Linked DNA regions of Homo sapiens: all the other regions are reported to be linked to region 3. The links are microRNA targets in miRTarBase. Many come from high-throughput screens and were not tested one by one. Region 3 holds a microRNA gene; each other region holds the end of a gene's coding sequence.
What was found. The annotated mature microRNA hsa-miR-4424 reads AGAGUUAACUCAAAAUGGACUA and lies in region 3 at 2,698-2,719, shown strand. An mRNA with a match to its seed (bases 2 to 7 or 8) in the 3' UTR can be bound and repressed. Matches are read on the target gene's strand: a 7mer-m8 pairs with bases 2 to 8, a 7mer-A1 pairs with bases 2 to 7 and ends in A, and an 8mer does both.

Region 1 (4,105 bases), not on the chromosome of region 3:
ACTTTTTTATGTTCTGGATTGCTCTTTCCTTCCCATACCGAGAAGGTGGGAGGATGGGGGTTGACATTGCCTGTGTCTGTGACCATGGGCACCCCTCTGGGTCACGGTGTTTATCATAGCCAAGCAGCCAGAGGCACAATGGCGCATCACTGCGAGACTTTATTTAGCTTCTTAGGGCAGATTACTCCAAATCACTGGTTTTTCAAATAAATTACAGCTACCAGAAATTCACCCCTGGGGGAATCTGCAGCATATTTGAATGTCAGTTAACTTGGGTGGTAAGATAGTTGCTTTACATCCTCTTTGAGTTTTTCAAACATTTTTTTGAGTGCTTTTTTTTTTTTTTTTTTTTTTCCTATTTTAAGGAGTAAATCATTGGTATGCCTGCCCTTTTTGTAGGGATGTCTTCCCCTTTGCAGGGAAATGAAAACAAGTTTTCTTCACAATCTCTGGGAGGCATCGTGCTTTGTGACACAGTGCTCTTGAAGAGGTGCCTTTCATGGTGATTAAGATGGGATTGGTTGTTCACTTAAATATGGGCTCCCACCCCTCCCCACCCCCAAATTAGGGAGAAACTAAGAAGCTTTCCTTTTGTTGTTTCAGGTATTTTTGAATAATTACCAAGCAGCCGAAGACCACCCACGAATGGTTATCTTACGACTGTTACGTTACATTGTCCGCCTGGTGTGGAGAATGCATTGACAGGTTCTTTGCGGAGCCGAGATACCATGCAGACATTTTGCTTGTTCAAACCAACAAGACCCAGCACCGCGGTCTCCTGGTGCCATTATTATGCAGCCAGCGGTTCTCTTGTGGAGGGGGCAGGTGACGTTTCAGAAGACACCGAGCTGGATGGGACTACCTTTCTGTTCATCACCACACAGCAGAATTTCTAATGGAAGTTTGTTGTGAATGTAAAGGAGGGAGCATTCTTTGCTTTTTAATATACAAACCATGGTTTTTTGGAGCAGGATTTTGTGTAAGAATGGTGTTTACATGCAGTGTGTTTTCCCCCTCACCTTCAATAAGGTTTTTCAAAAAGGAAATGGAAACTTTTTAACCAATTTGTGAATAACTTTTGTATTAAAATTTTAAGAACCTACGGCCTATTCTCAGAGGATTATGTAACCCCTGCAGTGGAAACTGAGCCAGCTAACTTAAAAAGCTGCCTTAGTTTATTTTTAGAGATTACAGAATTTTTAAACAGGGAGACGTGTGATATACTCCCTCCCTTCCCTACTATTGCCTCTCTGACCTTTTTAAATTATTTTTAATACCAAAAGAGTTCTTTTGAAATGGAACTGATTAAAAGGGCAGAGGGTCTGTTGCCAGCCTGCATTGATATACCAGTCCCATTTGTAAATATTTACGTACCTTTATAAATTCAGTTGCATCTGTGGCAAAATTTCAGACTATTTTTGCGTCTTTCCTCATCACTTTTTGTGATGCAACTCCAGTCTGGACTCAGATGCATAGATTTGGTCCAGTGTATTTTCATGATAAAGTGAAATTGAGTCAGAACAAGAGTTAATATCTGCCTGTATCTTGCACAGTTCGAGCGATCTGTTATTAACTGGGAAGCATTTGGTGTTGGTTTTCATTCCATTTCGACGAGCATGTTATTGGGAAGTATTCTGAAGAGGCAATAGCAGTAATAACAACAGACTTAAGTGCTACGCCCCTTTGTGCTGCTGGCTTTTCTGGTTGCAGGCTTTCCCATGGTCACAGGATGCACTGTCAGCATCAGGTCCCAGAGGGCCACCGTGTCCATTACAGCAGAGTCCAGCTGCAGCATCCAGCTCACGCCCTCATGGGAATTGGCACAGGCCTGGGGCAGGGCTTCTGATGGCCATTTGCTTGGCCTCCTGCATTTTAGTCCAACTCACAGTCCACTAGCTTCACTCCTTTAAATTCACTTTGAAACAGGCCTCATCCCACTTCCACCAGCACCATAGAAGAATAATTCTGGGCAGAAGTCTGTTTTTTTTCATTTTTCCAGGACAGTTGGATATTGTCAGGCCACTTGTGACCCCAGCCATGTAGTGAGGGTGCTCTTTCTCTGTGCCTGCTCCTTATGAGTGCAGTGGAAGGAAGCCACACACTGGTCAGTCATTTCAGAGGCAGCAGATGCCCAGGGAGACCCAAGAAAGAGTCAGGTTAGGGAGCAGTGAAAGTGAGGAGGGAAGACAATTCTGTGAACTCTGTAACTCTTAAAATTTTTGAAAACTCCATCGTTAAACAACTTTTAAAAGAAATAACTAAATTTTCAAATGAGTAAGCAGTGCCACCAACTAGTGTTTTGCCCGATAGAAGAGCCAGCATGTTCACGTTATTTAAATTAGGTGGAAAAATCTAAACATTTTTATCTTCATAATTTAAAAAATATATATGTATATATTGCATATTCACTTTTTCCTTTAGGTAGAGATGATTTCAATCCAAATACTCTTACTTTAAAAAATTTCCTTTCCCCAAGAATCTCCTTGGGACTTTGACTTATTTTTAAAGCTGTGTTGGAGCTCATCTTGTTCCCTGATGTGTCTCGAGCCCATTGGTAGGGTCATACAAAGCCCACGGTTACAAGCAGTGGTAGGATTGCAGCCGTGGGCCTGCTGGACACACACATACACCAAAGATGTATTTGGATCTGGGCACCCCCTCCCAGGATCCCTGTACTCACGTGCCAGTCTCCTGACTAGAGCACTTTACTCTGTTTCCTCAGCCCTGCAGCCCCTGGGAGCACACACTGGGTGCAGCCCTGGGCCAGGCACGGGAGGCCCTGCCCTGTGCTGCCCAGGGGCTGTGTGCACCACATGAGCACATTTCCCTCTGGCCTGGCGGCCTCCAGGCTGGCTGTGGAAACAGTTCCTGAGGAAATTAGAGATTCTATGAATTGTAGGAGTATTAAAGACCAGGCTGTTGGCACCAGAACTTAAAGCGATGACTGGATGTCTCTGTACTGTATGTATCTGGTTATCAAGATGCCTCTGTGCAGAAAGTATGCCTCCCGTGGGTATACGTTTTTACCTTTTTTAAAAAACATTTTTGTAGAAAAAATAATTAAATCCCCTTTTTGGAAACTTACTGCAGGTTTTGTGCCTTGACAACCTCTCCCTATGTGAGGTTTGTAAAAAGTGTCCTGTGACTTAACACAGAAACGCAATAAACACACACAAAATAGTTTCATGAGTGATTCTTCAGATGCCCTTCCCAACTGGTTAGTTGATCAAGAATTTTGGGGGTGGGGGTTGCGGAGAAATCAAGTTTAAAATTCCTTCTGATTAAAAAAATATAGTGGAATACAATTGTCTGCCGTTTCCCCTTCTTAATGTATATATTGTGAGTATTTATTAGATTCGTAGGTCATATTACTTATCAACTGAGCCAAATGTCTGTGTGCAATTGTGTTTCCTTTACCTTGTAAAATTTTGTACAGCATAAATAAGTAAAAAAATCACTGTTTTTCTCAACTTTTTCAAAATCAAGGATTGTAAATATTGTAGATTCTTTTTCTGTGTGATGTGTCCTACTGTTTCATAATGCTGTAACTTGTAGAAATATTGTATATTTATTTTCTGCTTATTTAATGTCTTAATTTCTGAAAAGTATTAACATCCCTGTCTCCCACTCCCCTGCCGTCCCATGAAGTTAACTCCTGAGAGTTGTCGGGGGTGACTGGAGAGCTCATTGCAGACCACGTGGTCCTCCAGGGTGGCTCTCCACCTTCGGGTCCTGGTATTTCCAGTCAAGTGGGTTTCAATTCTTGGGCTTTGCCGCCCTTATGATGAAGTGTGTGTTTGATGCCAGTGAGAAACTCAGTCTGGCAGGCTACAAAATTCTACTCCAAGAAATACCCAGCAACCTTCTGTTTGTTCCAAAGCAACTAGCTTATCATGCAAGCAAATTTTGCTGACTCCAGGCTTTATCTTTAGGAAAACAAAAAAACCAAAGTATTATCAGCAGGTGGGAAAGATTTTTCTATTGAAAATTTATCCCTGACAACTCAGCGTTTAGAAAAGAAATAAAATGTGCCACTTCCAGAGGTGCTGCATTGCAGTTGTTCAGGGCTAGGGCCAGGCAGGACAAGTGAATGGGTGGGACAGGT
Region 2 (4,108 bases), not on the chromosome of region 3:
TTCACGTTAATTTATACCATCAGTACAAAACTTGTAAAATTCATTGCTTTGTGGAATTCACTTTATCTTTCTACATTCTCAGAGGCAGTTTTGGGGAGCCAGAATTACAGAATTAATCTAGCTAAAAATGCTCTTTAACAGCTTGGTTTGCAGTCTGTTTGTGCTCTTGTCCTTTGTGTTGATTTGGTAATTCTGTACAGATTAAGATGTGTTAATGGATTATTTATCTTATTTGTTGTGAAAATAACGACTCTCTCTTTTTAAATTTTATGGTAGAATGAACATTTATTCTTGATTATAATTTATTGAATAATAGATACTTATCATTTACAATTAAGCAGAAGTTAAAATGTGGTAACTGTTGAAAATTGAAAATTAGACAGCTATCCCATTTTAAATTGATGGGTGCAAAGTGTGTTTCTTTCTCTTAGGTTACCATTCCATCAAATACAATATCTGTGAATGGAAGGTCAAGACTCAGCCATTCCATGTCCCCTGATGCCCAGGACGGCCATTAAATGTTACCCTGCCACACCACTGCACTTCACTTCCACTTCAGACCAACTTCATACTAATGGAACATTTTGGCAAATGTATATTCAGATGTACACTAATATATTATCTATTAAAATATTAGAATTTGTGTTGTGGCTTTTAATGCCAGAAGAAAAGTTACCAGAATTTATAATTTATAGTAATTTTTTGATCTTTTTTTTGCCTTAAGAGTTGAATATGCTGCTTTAGAACTTTAAAACAAGGTGTAAATGATTTTCATTTTTTACAAATGAAAAATAATTCCTTTGTATTGATTTCACTTACCAGCACATTCTCTACAATGGTGACTTAGACAAAAGTATAAGATTCATAGACTTTATATTTGTATGACATACAACTAGGACAAACATAGATATGACATTTGCTGCCTCAGTGTAGCAATTGGAAATATTTATAAGTTATATGAAAGCCTGTTTTGGGCTGAAAGAATGATTTAGAAAACTAGTGATACCAAATAAGTATATTCAGTTCAATAATTATTTTCAATGATGAATCACTTAGTGTGAAAGACTTGCCTTGTGTATTCTTTATGTAATTACAAATCACTGTCAATTTTATGGGAAGCTCATAGTATTTTAATATTTTATTAACATGGAACTCTTGTTTTTTTAATCTTTAGAACTTAAATTCTACAAGAATTTTAAATATTTTCTGTATATAATTATGACATTGTCACACAGAAATTACACATTTTATGTGCCAGAAGCCTTAAACATCTTTCTGTGAAAATGCTGATATATTGTGACAGTTATTTCACATTTGATATGTAGAGAGGAATAGGGGTTAGTTTATGTTTATATTGAAAAACTTTAAAGACTATTTGGAAGTTCCAGAAATTCTGGTTTTAATTCAAGTAAAATGATAAAATAGTCATTATATAGTTCAGATGCTAATATTCTAAGTAATAATATATATTTACATTGAAGCTAAAACTGTTAAGCAAAACAATGCCCATTTGTCGGCTTACAGCTCTTCCGGAGTCTAGAGCCTGTTGGTGTTCTGTCCCTACTTTAAGAATTTAATTGCTCACTTATTCTGAAAGCTTTGTTCAAACAAGATGATATTAAATTTGTTTTCACTAAAACTACTGGGATATCTGCCTCTTGGGGATTTTTTTTTCAATTTAATAAAAGCAAGTTGTATATTTGGGGTGCTTTTTAAAATATATAGTTTGTGTCAACCAGCATATTTATTTCCCTTACCTGATGCATACATTTCTATTAGCCAGTGAACAAACAAGAAATTTGTAAGATTTACCATTTATCAGGGATCCCTAGTGTACATTTAAGCCCTGGCATTCTGACTCCAAAATGCATGGTCTAAGCATTTAAAATGTTTAGCATAGTTCCTGATACATGGCATGGCCATCTTAAATGCTAAATGTTGCTGCTGTTTTCCTTGAATCAGTTGGAGAGACCCTCATATATAGATACTTAAGTTATGTTGTTATAAGCAAGTAGAGAAAGGAGTGAATTTTTTTTAAAAAATTGTGTTGTCATAATTATCTACTTATAAAAATATAAATTTGGATCCCTAATTTAAACCTTCATATATTTTGAGTTGGATTGAAGACTTAAAGACAAGCGACATGTAAGATGTTTTCAATATATTAATATATAAGAAAGGCTTAATTTATGAAGATATGAAAGTTCCTACAACTCATGATAAGTCTACCTAATAGAAATATCAGCACATTATTCTTACAAGAGGAAATTCAAAAGGCCAACAAACATGGAAAAAAAATACTCTTCACTGATAATCAGGGAAATACAAGTTAAAAACATGGAAAGGTACCACATCAAATTAGCAAAAACGGAAGTTTCAAAATAGCAAGTGTTGTCAGGAACATCAAACAGTGGGAACTCTACTGTTGGTGGGAAAATACACTGGCATAACTACCAGTTCTGCAATATCTAGTAAAATTAAAGATTCCTTACCATGTTACCTTAAATAAGTACTTATGCACATGCATAAGGAGACATCTGCAAAAATGTTCACGGCAGCCTTGTGTAAAACAGCAGAAAGGGGTCCTAACCCGTGCTCAGCTTTAGTAATGCATATATTCATATGATAGACTTCCACACAGCAGTCCAAATGAACAAGCTAGAGCTATATATGTCAGCATGAATACATCTCAAAAACAAGTGACAAGAGTGAGTGGTGGAACAAGTCGTGTTTTATGAAATTAGTTACATAAAGTATAAATATAAAAAATGATACTATAAATTATGGCTGTATATGTAGGAAAAAAATTTGCTGGTGGTTACCTGTGGGAACCAAGAAAGACTGAATTGAGATTTATAAGAGGCATCAATTGTGTTCGTAGTATTTTATAAACTGCTGTTTGAAAACAAGTGCTTATTATATTCTAAATTCTAGTATACTTGTAGTTTATAATTATAATAAAATAATGTTTTAAAGGTCACATAGGATTTAGGGGGCTATGTATATAAACCATTAATACATGTATGTTCTGAAAAGTTGCCTTATCGACACCATTTTAGGAGAACATGTGCTATCCTGTCAATGGGGAAAGAAATTTGTGACAAGTAGTTTTCACTCATCATATCCTAAAATAACAGCACAAGGAAGATACAGGAATGGTCTAGAACCAACTTTTGACTTTCATGTATAATTTTTAGCATCTAGGCATTTTGCTTTTCCTTCTTTCCTCCAATCAAGTTATTTATTTATATAATATTAAAATTATAATTCAGATTACATATATATGATAGAGTATAAAATACATTCTTTTTCATCCCCAGCATCCCACTCTCCTCTCCAAAGATAGCTGTTAATATTTTGATATGAAGCCCTATATAGATGTATTTATATGAAGTACATGTGTGCAGGTTTGTTGGGGGCTTTTGTGTGTGTGTGTGTGTGTGTGTGTGTGTGTGTGTATGTGTGTTTCTTAACATGAAAGGAGGTCACACTCTAATACTATGTAACAACTTGCCTTTTATACCAGCAGTGTTCTGGAAGAGCTTTTCTTTTTACACATACAGATCGATCGTATTTCTGTTAGCCATTCTATTGTTTCTTGCTGCGGTACATAATGTTGGCTGGAGTGAAGAGATTGGGGTTCAGATCACAAGTCTGCCACTTATGAGTCATGGGATCTTGGGCAAATTACTTTCTCTATGCTTCATTTTCTCTTCTGAAAAATGAATTAATATGAATAAAAATGAACCTTATTTTAAAAACGGCAGGCAATTCATCTTTTAAAGTTACCTGATGTCAATACTATAAGTGAACAGGTATTATTTGCCTAATATACTCCCTATTCTTTGAGGAGTGACCCTTCTTCCGATTTCACCTCTTCATGAACTGCCAGATCTGGCCTTGGCCACTAGGCACTGGCAACAGCATACACACTCTGTCATCTTATCCAAGTCCTTGAAATGAGACCAATCTTTGTCCTGAGACTTAGTTACTTATAGGTGCTTAAAACCCAAAGCGTCCCAATTGATACAATTATGTATGTGTCTAATTCCAGTTTACTTTGTACCCACTACCAGTAGAGAAAATAAGTATCAAAGAACTAAGAATC
Region 3 (4,108 bases):
ATTAATAGAAATTAAACAACATGCTCTTGAACAACCAGTGGGTCAAAGAAGATTTAAAAAACTGTCTTCAAACCAACAGAAATAGAAACATAACATACCAAACATGGGATGCAACAAAAGCAGTTCTAACAGAGGAATTTATAGAGATAAATACCTAAATTTTAAAAAGAAAGATCTCACAGCCAGGTGCAGTGGCTCATGCCTGTAACCCCAGCAGTTTGGGAGGTCGAGGTGGGCAGATCACTTGAGGTCAGGAGTTCATGGCCAACATGGTGAAACCCCATCCCTACTAAAAATACAAAAATTAGCCAGGCCTGGTGGCAGGCACCCTCAGGAGGCTGAGGCAGGAGAATTCCTTGAAGCCAGGAGGCAGAGGCTGCAGTGAGCTGAGACTGTGCGACTTTACTCTAGCCTGTGCAACAGAGTGAGACTCTGTCTCAAAAAAAAAAAAAGACAAACTAAGCCCAAAGTTAGCAGAAGGGAGAAAAATAACAAAAATTAGAGCAGAAGTAAATGAAATAGAGAACAGAAAGACAATTTAAAAGATCAAAGAAACTAAGAGTTGATTTTTTAAAAAGATAAACAAAATTGACAAACCTTTAGTAAACTAACCAAGAAAAAAAGAAAGATGACTCAAAAAATTACAATCAGAAATGACAAAAGAATAGTTACAACTGATACCACAAAAATACAAAAGATTAGGTGGATTCCACCAAACAGAGAAGAATAAACACCAATTCTTCTAAAACTTTTCTAAAAAAAAAAATCAAGAGGGAGGAACATTTCCAAACTCTTTTTACAAGGCCAGTATTACCCTTGCATCAAAGTTAGATAAGAACACTAAAAGAAAAGAAACTTACAGGCTTATACTGAACACAGATGGAAAAATTCTCAATAAAATTTTTGCAGGCTGAGGCCAGGCACAGTGGCTCACTTGGGGATGCCAAGGTGGGCAGATCACTTGAGGCCAAGAGTTTAGACCAGCCTGGCCAACATAGTGAAACCCGGTCTTTACTGAAAATACAAAAATTGGGCCAGGTGCGGTGACTCCCACCTGTAATCCCAGCACTTTGGGAGGCCGAGGTGGGTGGATCACCTGAAGTCAGGAGTTTGAGACTAGCCTGGCCAATATGGTGAAACCATGTCTCTACTAAAATTAGAAAAGTTAGCTGGGTGTGGTGGTGCACATCTGTAATCCCAGCTACTTGGGAGGCTGAAGCATGAGAATAGCTTGAGCCCAGGAGGCGGAGACTGCAGTGAGCCGAGATTGCATCACTACATTCCAGCCTGGGTGGCAGAGCAAGACTCTGTCTCAAAAAGCAAAACAAAACAAAAATTGGCTGGGCAAGGTGATGTATGCCTGAAGTCCCAGCTACTTGGGAGGTTGAGGCACAAGAATCACTTAAACCCGGGAGGCAGAGGTTGCAGTGAGCTGAGATTGCACAATGGCCCTCCAGCCCGGGTGACAGAGTGAGACTCTGTCTCAAAAAAAAATGTTAAATTAAAAAAATATATATTAACTGGCTGAATTCAACAGCACATTAAAAGGAGCATACACTATGATCAAGTGGAATTTATCCTTGGTATGTACGGATGGTTCAACATACACAAATCAATAAATGTAATAAACCACATTAACAGGATAAAGGTAAAAATCATATGATCATCTCAATTGATGCAGAGAAAGCATTTAACATCCTTTTATGATAAAAATTCTCTACAAATTAGGTATAGAAGGAAGGTACCTCAACATAATAAAGGCCATATATTACAAACACACAGGTAACATCATATTCACTGGTGGAAAACTGATAGCTTCCTTTCTAAGATCAAGAACAAGACAAGGATGCCTACTCTCGCTACTTCTATTTAACATAGTACTGGAAGTTCTAGCCAGAGCAATTAAGCAAGAAAAAGAAGTAACAGCCATCCAAATAGGAAAGGAAGAAGTGAAATTGTCTCTGTTTGCAGATGACATGATCTTATATGTGGCAGACCCTAAAGACTCCTCCAAAACAACTGTTGGAAATAATTTTAAAATTCAGTAAAGTGCCAGGATACAAAATCATCATACAAAAATCAGTTGCATTTCTATACACTAATAACAAACTATCTGAAAAAGAAGAAAACAATCCCATTTACAATAGCATGAGAAAAAATAAAATACTTAAACCAAGGAAGTGAAAGATTTGTACACGGAAAATTATGACATTGATGACAGAAATGAAAGAAGACACAAATAAAATGGAAAGATAGAAATTCTGTGTTCACGGACTGGAAGAATTCATATTGTTAAGATAGCCATACTACCCAAAGTGCTCTACAGATTCAATGCAATCTCAATGAAATTCCAATGACATTTTTCACAGAAATAGAAAAAAACTATCTGAATATTTATGTGGAACCATGAAAGACCCCGAATGGCCAAAGAGAACAAAGGTAGAGGCACACATTTCTTGATTTCAAATAATATTACAAAACTATAGGAATCAACAGTATGGCAATGGCATAAAAACAGACACATAGACCAATAGAGAGCCCAGGAAAAACTACATGCATATATAGTCAACTAATCTTTAATAAAGGCACTAAGAATACATAATAGGGAAAGGATCATCTCTTCAATAAATGGCATGAGGAAAACTGAATATTCTCATGCAAAATAATGAAATTGGACCATTATCTTACATCACACACAGAGTTAACTCAAAATGGACTAATTTTTCCACTAGTTAGTCCATTTCAAGTTAACTCTGTGTGTGATGTAGTCTAGAAACTCTGGAGGCTGAGGTAGGAGAATCACTTGAACCTGGGAGGTGGAGGTTGCAGTGAGCCAAGATCACACCAATGCACTCCAGCCTGGGTGACAGAGCAAGACTCCATCAAAAAAAAAAAAAAAATTACAAAAATTTGTAAGGCATGATGGTGGGAAGCTGAGGTGGGAGGATGGCTTGAGCCTGGGAGAAGGAGGTTGCAGGCCAGGCACAGTGGCTCACACCTATAATCCTAGCACTTTGGGAGACCAAGGTGGGCAGATCACTTGAAGTTAGGAGTTCAAGATCAGCCCAGCCAACATGGTGAAATGATGTTTCTACTAAAAATCCAAAAAAAAAAAAAAGTATCCAGGTATGGTGATGCACACCTGTAATCCTAGCTACTTGGGAGGCTGAGAGGGGAGGATTGCTTGAACCTGGGAGGTGAGGGTTGCAGTGAGCAGAGATCGCGCCATTGCACACTCCAGTCTGAGAGACAGAGAGATACTCTGTTTCAACAAAAAAGAAAGAAAGAAAGTCAAGCTATTGGAGAAACTGGACAGCAGTGTAAGTGTGAAATGTCTTATAGAAGAGTATTGTGTTGGAATGGCCACCATATAAGACCTGAAGAAACAGAAGGATAAGCTGTTGAAGTTCTATGCTTAAAGTGATGAATAGAAGTTATGAAAAATGGAAAAGCATAAAGCTAAAAATGAAGATCTCGATTATGTATTGAAAGAGTGGATCTGTCAGCATTGCAGTGAACACATGCCACTTAATGGTATGCTGATCATGAAACAAGCAAACATCTATCACAGTGAACTGAAAATTGGAGGGAGCTGTGAATATTCAATAGGCTGGTTGCAGAAATTTTTAAAAAGATATGGTATTAAATTTTTGAAGTTTTTTTGTGGTAAAGCATCTGCTCATCACAAAGCAGTAGAGAAATTCATTGATGAATTTGTCAAGGTCATCACTGATGAAAATCTGATGCCAGAACAAGCTTGTAATTGTCTAAGTACATTTTGTGTTGCTATAAAGGAATGCCTGAGGCTGGGGAATTTACAAAGTAAAGAGGTTTATTTGGCTCATGGGTCTTCAGGCTGCACAAAAAATACGGTGCCAGCATCTGCTTCTGGTGAGGCCCTCAGATTGCTTCCACTCATAGTGGAAAGTGAAGCGAGAGCCATCTTGTGCAGAAATCACATGGCAAGAGAAGAAGCAGGGGTTGGGGAGGTCCCAGGCTCTTTTTAACAATCAGCTCTCTCTAATAGAGTGAGAACCCACTCATGCCTCCTCCCCTCAGGGAAGCCATGAATCTATTTACCAGGGATCTGCAAACCCCCGCCCCACAC
Region 4 (4,000 bases), not on the chromosome of region 3:
GAGGTTTACTTGGCTCATTGTTCTGCAGGATGTACAGAAAGCATGGTGCCGGCATCTGCTCAGCTTCTGGTGAGGGCTTCAGGAAGCGTTTACTCATAGCAGAAGAGGAAGGGGAGCCAGCGTGTCACATGGTGAGAGGAAGGGAGCAAGAAGAGGGGAGGGGTGCCAGCCTCTTTTAAGCAATTGTAGAATAAGAACTCACTCATTATGGCGGGCAGGCACCAAGCCATTCATGAAGGATCTACCGCCATGACCCAAACACCTCCCACTAGGCCCCACCTCCAACATCGGGGGCCACATTTCCTCCTGAGATTTGGAGGGGACAAATATCCAAACTCTATTAGTGACCATTGGCCAAAGCTACAAAGTGGGTCTCTTTCCTTCCCCAATGCTGCCTCCTGGAGATTCAGGACTGGAGCTGAGCATCTAGACCCTGAGTAAGACTGGAGGCTAGAAGCTGGAGCTTGGGAAGCCTGCCTCTTACTGGCTGTGTGCACACAGTGGGAGCTGGCTTGCCAGGGGTGGGCATCAGCGGATGCTGATGGGCACTTTGCAGATCTCAGCTCTGGCCCTGGCCTTAGGTTCTTTGCACTGCTCCACCTCCTGGTGCAAGTCCCCTCCACTCAGCTGCCACAGAGGAGCTCTGGCAACAGCACTGCTCATCTTAGTCCCAAAGGCACAAAGGGTCCACACTCTCTACCTCAGACCCTGCTTCAACATCGAGGCCTTTCCTTTGGTGGTCAAGGGTGAGACCACCCTGTCCCCCGACCCTGCATCACCCACACTAAGCCATCCTCTCCCAAGGATTCCATGACATCATTGGCCCAAATTGTGGGTGCTGCCACCGTCTTCCAAGAAGGTGAACCCATCCCCCTCTTTCCATCCTCCTCCCTTTCCTCTCTCTTCCCTCCATCTTCCCTCATTGGTAGGATTGTCAGATAAAATATAAGATGCATAGGTCAATTTTAATTTTAGATAAACAATGGATACATTTTAAGTATGTCTTTTTTTTTTTTTTTTTTTTTTTTAGATGGAGTCTTGCTCTGTTGCTCAGGCTGGAGTGCAGTGGTGTGATCTCAGCCCACTGCAATCTCCACCTCCTGGATTCAAGAGATTCTCATGCCTCAGCCTTCTGAGGAGCTGAGATTACAGGTATGTGCTACCTCCCCAGGCTAAATTTTGTATTTTTAGTAGAGACGGGGTTTCACCACATTGGCCAAGCTGGTCTCGAACTCCTGACGTCAAGTGATCCGCCTGCCTTGGCCTCCTAAAGTGTTGGGATTATAGGCATGAGCCACTGCACCTGGCCATGCTTTTTTTTTTTTTTCCTTTCTAAATCTGACAACCCTCATTTTCTCTTCTCTTCCTTCCTTTTTCCTTTCTCCTTCCTCCTCCCTCCTCCTTCCCTGCCAGCTCAGGAAGAAGGCAGTCTTGTCCCATTCTGACAAATTGTTATAGAAGAGTGGTGGGGGTGAAGAGGTGACGGGGTAAGGGGCAGCCTTAGCTCCAGGACTATTTCTGTCACCTGTAGGCTGAAGATACAAGGCCAGTGCCTTTGGGAGCTCAGTTTCCCATCTATAAAGCAGATATCAGATTTTGCACCCATAAGTGCATGTGGGAAAGTGCTTGCTGCTGCTGAATATTTGCTTGACTAGCCTGAGTCAGACCTCATAGCCTGCCCACGGATGAGCTCAGCCCTCCGTTTGTTTGTTTCCAAGGAGCCTCTCATGGCACCAGCCTTTGGTTCCCATTCATCCCCATTCCCGGGTGTGATCCGGCTCCCCTGGCAAGAGTTGTGTCAGGGACTGGGGCTCAAGCCAGCCTCTTCACGTCCCCGAATCACAGCAGAAAGTTGGGAAGGAAACTCTGGAGTCCTGGCCTTTGCCCTAGTCACCCAGGGTCATGGTGAGCGTCAGGGGGTTGTGCTTCACAGATGCCATGTGAGCAGCGGACAGGATGCTGAGCTGAGGAACACAAGCCCTGCCCCACTCTGCTGTGAATTTCCTTGGACAAGCTGCTTCAGTATTGTGGGTCTCTATGGCCTATCACCTCCTCTACCCACAAACAGGGACTGGAGAGGGTGACATGCAGGACACTTCTACTGGAAGGTCTAGAACAAATAAATCATGCCTTCTCACTGCCTTTGTAAAAGTGGAATCTTAGGAGGTCATATTCTTACTATATTAAATTTTTTTGATAGAGATGTGGTCTTACTATGTTGCCCAGGCTGGTCTAAAACTCCTGGGCTCAAGCGATCCGCCCATCTCAGCCTCCCCAAGGGCTGGGATTATAGGCAGGAGGCGGTATTACAAGGCAACTGAGAGCAATGTCATTGGAGTAAACAAAGCAAAAACAGGCCAGGCATGGTGGCTGAGGCCTGTTATCCCAGCACTTTGGGAGGCTGATGGGGGGTAAATCACTTGAGGCCAGGAGCTTGAGACAACATGGGGAAACCCCATCTCTACAAAAAAATACAAAAAAATTAGCCAAGTGTGGTGATGCCCACCTGTAGTCCCAGCTACTCAGGAGGCTGAGGTGGGAGAATGGCTTGAGCCCAAGAGGTCAAGACTGCAGTGAGCCATGATTGTACCACTGCACTCCAGCCTGGGTGGGCGACAGAGCGAGACCCTGTCTCAAAAAACAAACAAACAAACAAATAAACAAACAAACGAACACCCCCTGCCCCAGGTCCTGGATCTGCCACCCAAGCTGTAAGATGTTGAGTGAGTAGCTTCACCCCTCTGAGCCTCCATTTCCTTATCCATAAAGGGCCTTGGGGATGGCATGAGAATAAAACATGCTAAACTCACAAAGCTCTTGGCACAGTTTCTGGTACACAGAGAGCACTCGCCAAATGATAGTTGTTTTCTTTATTATGATTATGCCAGATGTGACTGCCTTTGCTTCCAGGAAAGTCCCTAAAACATAAGCTATGTGCAACAAGGGAAGTGGGTTAGGGTGGGAAGCTGAGCGTGCAAGTCAGACAAAGCCTGATGTAGGCAGCTCCTATCAGAGGCATGTGGCCTTTGTGGCTGGGGCCCTCAAAAGACAGCCACTGCCAGAAATCTGGAGACTGAATTGTCTGGGTCTCCAGAAGAGAGTCCAACCCCACCACACATCTGCTCCTGTCCAAGGTGCTGAAATCCACCCCACATAGGCTCCTCCTAATCATGTACAGCTGTTGAGTCACCTGCACCCTACCTTCTGGTCCTCCATTCAATGCCACAAATATACACTGAGCATCTACTATATATAGGGAGTGGAAGTAAAAAGGATTTAGATATGTCTCCAACCCAAGTTGCTCACAGCCATACGGAAGGAATTCAAGCATACACACCTGCCTTAGGGTAGGTGAGGACAAAGGCTAGGGGATTCATTTTGCTATTTATTGAGTTTCATGACACCCACTTCTTGCCTTTACCCTTGCTTTTTCCTCTTCTGCAACCTTGGTACCCTCCAAGGTTGTGCCTCTCATACCTTTCTTGATCTGACCACAGTAGATGAGTTTTCCCCAGGGCATCTCTTTCTGTACTCACTAACGTCACAGAGTCAGGAGGACTAACAATCAATTTCAGGGAGGGAGGGAGTGTAGGATATAAACAGAGAAATCAAAGGGTTAGGAGGTCTCTGAGAAATGAGGGAGCCACCTAGACAGGGGTGAGCTCCTTATCATATTTCTGCATGCCCTCGTCAGGGAGCAGGACCTCCACTGTGAAGCTGACCTTCTTGGCGTGGACAAAGCTATAGGTGTTGTCGAAGCGTAGGACATCTGGGGGACAGATGGAAAGAGGGGCATTGGGCTTGGCTTTACACACTCTTTTTTCCACCCCTGGCCATGGAGGAGGACAGGCTTGTGTTCCCACTGGCTTTGTTTGCCAAGCTGGGCCAAGCTCCCACCACGCCTCTTCCCTTCCCCATGGGAACTGCCAACCCAAGCAGGTCCTGTAAACAGACACCAACCTCCTCTTGGCATGTGCCCAGGCATGGCTTTACTGGCATC
Region 5 (4,108 bases), not on the chromosome of region 3:
TGCAGCTGGGTATGCAACCTGATAAAAACCCTGATAATGTAGATCTATGCCTGAGTTTACAATATTTGTTTTGTGAGTTTCCAGAGATAATAACAGCTTTCAAAAGAGGAAAAAAGTAAGGTTCTTTTTTGAAAGCTTTGTAGATTGTATATAGAATAGCTTTGTAACATAAGGTTTTGTGTCTATTTAGATCAGTCATATATATTCCATGCAGAATACAATATTATAGAATACACTAGTCTAATATTTGTACTTGATAATTTTGCCTTTTAGAATTTCAACATATATATATGTACACTAACACTTTGTCTATTGTCTATGTTTTTCTTTTGTTGAAAAACACGATATATATATGTTGTAGGGTTTTGGTTTTTGTATTTGTTTTAAGCTAATGGTTTGGAAGCTCTTACCATAGATATTCACTATACAATCAGAATGACTTTGCCACCTATTCAGGCAAAGTAGTTGTGCATATTAATAAATGTTTTACATATTAATGATCCTTTTGACGTGACTGGATCCCCACCCTTCATTTCATGTGCTTCTATTTTCCTACATCTTTTACATGACTAAGGATTAATGAAATCACCTCTTCATAATCATGACCATAATTTCATCCAACAAGTACTCAAGTTTGGTGTTAGCACTTTATTAATGCTTACGACTTCTCTCTCTCTCCCTCTTTCTCTTTTCCTTAGTCATTGCACAATAAGGATTTTTGAATGTATAATATCATCTAAGGTAAGCTTTCATATGGTTTTGGCATATGAAGCTTATGACTGTCATAAGCCATACCAAGCCTGTGGAGTATGGCATGATTTTCATTACATAATCCAATGAAAATAGACTTATTTTAAATCCCTAACTTTGTAGTTTTAATTTGTATTTCACTATCTTGAAATTAACAGCTAGTACTTATCCATCACAGCAGTCTCCTACTGACATGAAGCAAGTTGTTGAATGCAGTAGAGCATGAATGAAAGCATTTAATGTAGACAAAAATGGGTGATACCCAAGCATTCTGAATTATTTGCATCAAGGAATGGACATGTACATAAGTGGCATCATTTCTACCAATATGTGACTTGAGTTGTTTTTTTAAAAAAAGGAGAATGACTTTCTCAAATTTGCATTAAAGAAGTTTTTAAGAATGTTCAAATGGCATGCTGCTTTGTCTGGACGTGAATTTATTAGCAAGTAGTAAAGCACTTCACTAAAGGACCATGAATTTTTGTGGTTTCATGGATTCTCTCTTGAAGGGTACTTTTATTTTTTTAATATAATTCAGAAACTCAGAAGGTAGGTATGAAATATTGGTAGGTGTTTCTCGCACCTTCAGAAAGTATTGGACCGGTCTTATTATTATAATTTTAACAAAATATTTCCAATTTTTGTGCTTTTGACATGCATAAATGACCAAAGTTAAAGGGAGTAGTTTTTATCTTTTCTAATGTGCTTGAATCGAAACTCTCTGTGCCTAATTAAAAAGAACATTAACAAACTGGAAGCAGATCTTCCCACTGATCCATAATGTGGTATGCATTTATTCTGCTGTTCAGTCAGAACATTTAAATCATCTATGAGGAATCACAAAACCTCTCAAAGAGCAATAAATACTTTCCAACCACTTGGGAATTTAAATGAAGATTGAACAATAGTAGGGGAAAAACTGCTGTGGTTCTACTGGGAACTTGCTTTTCCTTCTAGATGCCAAGTGCTTTAAATTCTAAATGTACTAAATCCAGGAGAAGATTTTCCAAGTAGAGACTGAATGAATCTTTGTAACTAATGGGAACATGATTAGTCACATTTCCAGGCAGCTAGTCAAGAAGTATTGTTTCAGCGATTTTTCAGGTAGATGGTTTTGATTTGTCTGTTTTCCTTTTGGTCCTCTCTAGGTGGGCTCTCCTTCTGCAGACTCCTCTTGCAAGGCGTACCTCCAAACATAATTGATTCGTATCTGCGAGACTTACACTCAAGCAATCCTGAGGAATACTGAGGGAGGGCCTGGCTACTGTCTCTCTGCACTCTGCTGCTTTGAAATCTGGTTGAAATGAGAAAAAGCATTTTCTGTTTTCCCACCAGGCCCCCAAGTGTGGTCTTTTTCTTTCCTCCTAATGTTGAAGAGAAAAAAAAAAAAAAAAGTTTGCCCAGATTGCTTAATTAAAAATTGCAAACAAAATCTCATTTGAAGTCAGCACTTTGGTCATTATTATCTCTGCTCACTGTATTATACTTTACAAAAATGCAAGTCATAGAATAAGCAAAAGCAGTTATTTTTGTTTACATAGTAGGCTATAAATGCTTTTTTTTTCCTCTCAGAGTAAAAAACATAACACAATGCACCACGACTGGATCTTGAAAACCCATCTTTCTCTTGATCTAGTAGATTTTTCTAACCAAAGCGGAGTTGTTGATGTCATACAGGCCTGCTTCACACCAGGATCTGTGCCTTTTTCTTCTTATTTGAATGCAATAAAACATTTTTAAAAGTCTAACTTTCAAACAAATTTTCTCAGTAGAAGGGATGGTACAACAAATCTGAAGTGTTTGTGATGAAATGATACAATATGCATTCATGCATTTAGGGTTGTATGCCGAGACACAAAACTGAGGCTAAAGGCTGGGAGCCAGCATGCCCCTGAACCCAGGTCTGCCCTCCCTGTGTCTCTAGCAAGGCATCTTGGCCAAATCTGCCAGAGCTTCTGCCAAAACAGCTAGTCATAGTGACAGAGGGCTGTTACAGACAACAGACCTATTACAGAGTTAGGGTTTGCTGATGGTATCCATTCAATTTGATGGAAACCTTTATTAAAAAATCTAGCAGCTGAGAAACATTTATACTAACCCATAATATTTTCAGCAACTTCCTTTACTCTTCCTGATATAAAGTTTCAGTTAAGGGAGTAGAATCGAACTGTAAGGTACCACAGCATTACTGTTTATTCCCTCGCCTCCCCTCTGTTTTTCTTTTTGGTCTTTTGTTGCAGGAGCTAAATATATTGTGACTTGTTGGTGGGCCCATGGCTTCTTTGGATGACATTTTAAACATATCTGCTCTTTTTTCTTTCCAGATTTTAGCTGGGAAGTTCTATGGTGGTCATGGATCTGGGTTGATGTTGGGCTCGTAAAGGGAAGGGTGAATGATTCAGGTCGTTGCAGTACATTTGAGAACAAAAGAAAGTCTAGTTTATGTCCAAACTATGTTGGCTCTATATATCTCTGTTGAAATTGGTTGGTGATGTTGCCTTACTGGTTGTTAAGAACATTGGCTATCACCCCTGCTCCTATGCTCCCAAAAACTCCAGAATAATATTGTGTGCAATCCCTGTGTAAACACCAATTTTATTTTATTTTATTTTTATTGCTATAACCCATTGTTTTTATATATATATATATTTTTATTATACTCTAAGTTCTAGGGTACATGTGCGCAACGTGCAGGTTTGTTGCATACGTATACATGTGCCATGTTGGTGTGCTGCACCCATTAACTCATCATTTACATTAGGTATATCGCCTAATGCTATCCCTCCCCGCTCCCCCCACCCCACAACAGGCCCTGGTGTGTGATGTTCCCCTTCCTGTGTCCAAGTGTTCTCATTGTTCAGCTCCCACCTATGAGTGAGAACATGCGGTGTTTGTTTTTTTGTCCTTGCAATAGTTTGCTGAGAATGATGGTTTCCAGCTTCATCCATGTCCCTACAAATGACATGAACTCATCATTTTTTATGGCTGCATAGTATTCCATGGTGTATATGTGCCACATTTTCTTAATCCAGTCTATCATTGTTGGGCGTTCCAAGTCTTTGCTATTGTGAGTAGTGCCGCAATAAACATACGTGGTAAACTCCAATTTTAATCAAGAAAGCTACGTGCACAGTATTGGTTAAGGTATTTTAACATAAAGGAAGTCTGGCTCATCTATAAAGACATGAAAACCTTATGTCTATGTACAAACCAAAGAAATGACAATGTGGCAAACCCAGTCAACGTGGTCCCTGCAGCCCAGCTGCTGGGTCTTAGCCATAGTGCAGCAGCCGAGCTGGCTGCTTAACTCAAATACTCTGAGCACTTTGGCCAAGACATTGGCCAAGCTAGTTAGGCT
Region 6 (4,108 bases), not on the chromosome of region 3:
CCAGGAAGTTTCTGCCTGGGATGAAAACACAGCCTTCAAGGAACAAATAACTTGAGGGGCAGAATTCTGTCACATGGGAAACTGGCCATGTGATTCGCCAGGCAAATTGCTCTCCCTTCCCAAGGGCTGTGCTGCCTTTCTTTGGGCCTCAAAGATAAGACAGCTGCACAAACCACCTGCGGGTGTGCCCCTGCCCACAGGGGAGAGGCCACAACATGCCACAGCTGGGACCCACGGAACAGGTATAACCCTGGCTCCTCTTTCCCCAGATGCTTGCTCTGCCAGGGCACGAACACTCCATGTGGATCAGGGTCTCCTGCTCCCCGTTCCAGCAGATGCAGACCACCAAGCAGAGTACAATGGGGCAGCCCCTCCACTGTCCACAGAAAGTACTGAGCTCCAGCTCCCCCGGGCCAGGGCTGGCAGGAGCCCTGCTTGGGGAACAACCTGCACAGCTCCATCTGTCACACTAGGGGGTCACAGCCTCCACCAGCTCATAACTCTCCTGCCCCAGCAGCCCTGACATGAGCTCCCCTTCCTTGGAGCCTTGTCTTCTGTGAATGGATGGAAGAGGGCAGGAATCTTAAGAGACAAAGAATATTTTGAGTAACCCAATGAAGTCAAAGAGGAAAGAAGCACTCTCGTCTATTCACCTCCCACACATGGGCACTGGAATTTACGTTTGGACACAGATTTCAAATGTCACAAGGCCTGGCTTGGGACTTTCTCTCCAAGATGCAAAGCAGGCGCCCTTCAGAACACCTTTGGCCTCTACTCAGAACTCCTGGGAAGTGGCACAAACACATACATTTGGTCTCTGTTCCCAGCTCTGGCTGCTTGCCCCGGACAGCCTGAGTTTTTTCTCCAGCATGGGGCTATCATAGCTATGCACCTCCTGATGTTCGGGCCCAATGTTGGGACAGGCTCAGGGTCCAGAGCTTCCCAGATCCACGCTGCCCATGGTGCCCCAGCATCAGGAAGCCATCTCAGCAGCTGACCAAAGTGTCTTTTATTTGTGACATACAAATACAACCAATGCAAGAAGAGATCACTTTTTCCCTTTGATTCCAGTGATAACAAGCTGCTAAAGAAAAAAAAAAATATATATATATATATATATATCAAGGAGTTTATCTTCCAAATTTCCTCTTAAAAAAAAATTAAAAAGAACCATTCACATGTCCTATACATACTTGACACCAACAAAAATAACCTGAAATAGGGTGGATATAACTAAAATTTTAAAAATCTTAAAAAAATCTTAACATGCTCCAAACAAACAAACAAAACACAAAAAGCCTGGTAAAAAAGGCCTGCTATGTTTCTCTTTTTTTTTTTTTTGAGATGGAGTCTCACTCTGTCGCCTAGGCTGGAGTGCAATGGCGTGATCTCAGCTCACCACAACCTCCACCTCCTGGGTTCAAGCGAGTCTCCTGCCTCAGCCTCCCGAGTAGCTGGGATTACAGGCCACAACCACGCCTGGCTGATTTTTGTATTTTTTAGTAGAGATGGGCTTTTGCCATGTTGACCAGGCTGGTCTTGAACTCCTGACCTCAGGTGACCCGCCTGCCTCAGCCTCCCAAAGTGCTGGGATTACAGGTGTAAGCCACCGCACTCAGCCATGCCTGCTGTTTCTCAAAACCAAGACCTGGGGGAAGTGGAGAAAGATGGATGTTTTGGAAATGAATGGGCTCAAGACCAACAAGAGTGATTGCAGGTCTCAGATAGTGCCTCTCCCACCCTAGTCCCGACCTCCTGAGGAACCCTTCAGGACATGGCCTGCAGAGACTAGGGTGAGCAGGGTATGGCACCAAGCACCCATTGACCAGTTGGTGCCACGTATCCAGTGACTGGAAAGAGACAACGTAGACTGAACTCACCTTACAAGGGATGAACACGGGGGGGTCCCTTTTGGTCCCCTTGAGTGAGAGGTATCAGGAATCCATGATCTAAGACAATAAATATTTAGCATCTGTGTCCTTTCAGAGACAGGGACCAGAGACAAATCTCTTCCTAAACATGCTCCTGTGGTTTCATGATTCTTAGGAGTCCACCAAACCCCTCCAGCAATGTCAACTCTGCCTGGGATGAAACCCACCAGGAGCCAGCAGGGTGAGGCAGAGGCAGAGGCAGACTTATTCCAGTGTAAAGCTGCAAGGCCCTCTCTAAGGAGTTCCCAGTCCCACTGCTGCCCATCAAGAGCAGCGCAAAGTGCTCAGCAGAGGGGCCAGGCTGGGTGAGGGAGGCCCTGTGTACACAGGCTCCTGCACAAGCAGGAATCCAGGTGAGAAGCAAGGACCACTCTGGGGAGATCTGCCAGGAGAGACTGCCAGAGTTGGGCAGAGGGTGGGATGTGAGCAGATGCTGAGGTCAGAGGGACCAACAGACCTCCACGAGAACAACTTCACGAAGGCTAGAACCTTTATGATACTCCCCACAGCAGAGCTCAGGGATATCCAAAGGGAGCTGTTAGGTGCTTTTTCCTTGATAAGGATTTGGCTTTTCTTCCCTGGAAGAGGAACAAGGCCTAGAGATCAGGATGAGCATTAGTTCTGAGCCTGCCTTTCTATCCTATGAGAGAAGAGGAAGGCTTTCTCCTTCCCCTGCTCCAGCCTGTTGCCACAGGGTGACACCAGAGAGAAAAGCAACTGTTGGCCACTGAGAGGCATTTCTGCTGCAGCCTGAGCTATGGCCCGGCTGGGCCACGGCAGTGGCACTAGTGCCTCACTGAGGCAGCGAGGGGCAAGCCTGAGGAGTGCAGGCAGAGGGGCCTGCTGCTGGCTGGGGGCTCTCTGAAGAGGGAGGGTGGCTGTGGGGAGGTGTGCCCTACCCTTAGAGAGCTATCAGCACCAAGATAGGAAAATCAATGGAGTTAACTACATGAGGAACGAGAAGTCCTTCTGGGGAAGATGAGGGGCTCCCTGATGTTATTCTCCCCTTGAGACTAAGAACAGAGGTATTTGGGGTAGAGGTGAGAGGCAGAGGAGAAAGAACGACGAGGGCTGGCAGACAAGAACAAGCAGAACCTCTGGCTTTCTTCTATGAATCAAAAGCTCAAGTCACTGCCATGAGACCAGGAGGTTAAGCTTAGAATGCAGCAACATCCAGGAGCCTAGAGAAGCAATCATCCCCATGGCGGGTCCCAAGAACACCTCATTGTTGGTCCTTTCAGGCTCTCTGACAGCGATGGAGAGGCAGTCTTCCTCCCAGAGTCAGCTGGTCCCAACATGAGCCCACTCCATGAATCCATAAAAACAGCTGGAAAGAGCTTTCTTCATTTCCCTGCATCTTGGCACAAAAGATCTTCCCAGTCTCCGTTAACAGCAATTCCAACTGCGCAAGCGTGAGTCTCTCTGAAGCCGCCCTCTACACCCAGATCTTACACCCAGTGTGTTCCTCTTTGGGGACCAGCAAACCCCAGACCCAGGACTCCAGAACTTTCATAAAGGTGGACATAAACATTCCATTTGTCCAAGTGTGTATGTGTCAGGGGAGGGGAGGTTGCCAGGAATCTAGGGGCTGCAGAGGTGCGAGAACCTCCACTGCAGGCCCCAGGAGCCAAATGAGGAGGCAGCCACTGTGGAGGATGAGCTTCACTGCCCGGCCCCACCTACTCTTCCCTCTCCCTTTCATTCCCTTCTAGCACTCTGGTCTCCTAGGAGAGGAGGAGCAGCTGATACCACTTCTCCCCAGGGTTCTGTGCTCTCAGGGCGCAGCCTGGCACGTGCAGGGCTGGGGAGGCCACAGCTCTGAGGACACCCGGTGAACAGTGAGACCAGGAAAGAGGAAAGGCCTTAGGAGAGAGCATTGTGACTTGAAAGTGGCTCTGAGAGTTCAGTGGCAGCAGCCACCACAGTGCCCACCCGCGTGGGAGTGATGGCTGTCCCCAAACTTGGTCCTCCGGCTCAGGATCTCATAGGAGCAATCCTCCCCACAGCAACCGGACATGCTGGGGGAAGAGTCATCAATTTCAAATCTGCAAGGCAGGCAGGAGAAAAGGGTTGGTGGCAGGCAGCTGAGTGCCTTCCTCCCTGGCCCGAGAACTCTTCTACCAGCCACACTGATGAGACCCTTAGGATGAGGGTGCAGGAGGTGGACAGTGGACCAA

Region 1: the mRNA of BCL2L11 is a reported target of hsa-miR-4424. Seed matches in the 3' UTR shown: 7mer-m8 at 3,649-3,655.
Region 2: the mRNA of COBLL1 is a reported target of hsa-miR-4424. The part of its 3' UTR that is shown has no 7-base or 8-base seed match.
Region 4: the mRNA of SEC14L3 is a reported target of hsa-miR-4424. The part of its 3' UTR that is shown has no 7-base or 8-base seed match.
Region 5: the mRNA of MYBPC1 is a reported target of hsa-miR-4424. The part of its 3' UTR that is shown has no 7-base or 8-base seed match.
Region 6: miRTarBase lists NAA40 as a target of hsa-miR-4424. Seed matches in the 3' UTR shown: 7mer-m8 at 2,870-2,876.

Annotation. Positions count from the first base shown.
Region 1 is chr2:111,163,530-111,167,634 of GRCh38, forward strand. It overlaps BCL2L11 (BCL2 like 11), which reads left to right. Exons shown (of 4, transcript NM_138621.5): 4 at 604-4,105. The coding sequence ends at 702. Among named protein-coding and RNA genes, the nearest start is that of BCL2L11, 45 kb to the left of the region's middle. RefSeq lists enhancers at 2,268-2,768, 4,083-4,105.
Region 2 is chr2:164,682,356-164,686,463 of GRCh38, reverse strand. It overlaps COBLL1 (cordon-bleu WH2 repeat protein like 1), which reads left to right. Exons shown (of 14, transcript NM_001365672.2): 14 at 432-4,108. The coding sequence ends at 518. Among named protein-coding and RNA genes, the nearest start is that of SNORA70F, 3.4 kb to the left of the region's middle.
Region 3 is chr1:178,675,066-178,679,173 of GRCh38, forward strand. MIR4424 (microRNA 4424) reads left to right here and starts at 2,684; the gene lies at 2,684-2,769.
Region 4 is chr22:30,456,374-30,460,373 of GRCh38, forward strand. It overlaps SEC14L3 (SEC14 like lipid binding 3), which reads right to left. Exons shown (of 12, transcript NM_174975.5): 12 at 2,856-3,769. The coding sequence ends at 3,648. Among named protein-coding and RNA genes, the nearest start is that of SEC14L3, 14 kb to the right of the region's middle.
Region 5 is chr12:101,683,684-101,687,791 of GRCh38, forward strand. It overlaps MYBPC1 (myosin binding protein C1), which reads left to right. Exons shown (of 32, transcript NM_002465.4): 31 at 699-741; 32 at 1,899-2,345. The coding sequence ends at 722. Among named protein-coding and RNA genes, the nearest start is that of CHPT1, 12 kb to the right of the region's middle.
Region 6 is chr11:63,954,206-63,958,313 of GRCh38, reverse strand. It overlaps NAA40 (N-alpha-acetyltransferase 40, NatD catalytic subunit), which reads right to left. Exons shown (of 8, transcript NM_024771.4): 8 at 995-3,976. The coding sequence ends at 3,835. Among named protein-coding and RNA genes, the nearest start is that of NAA40, 17 kb to the right of the region's middle.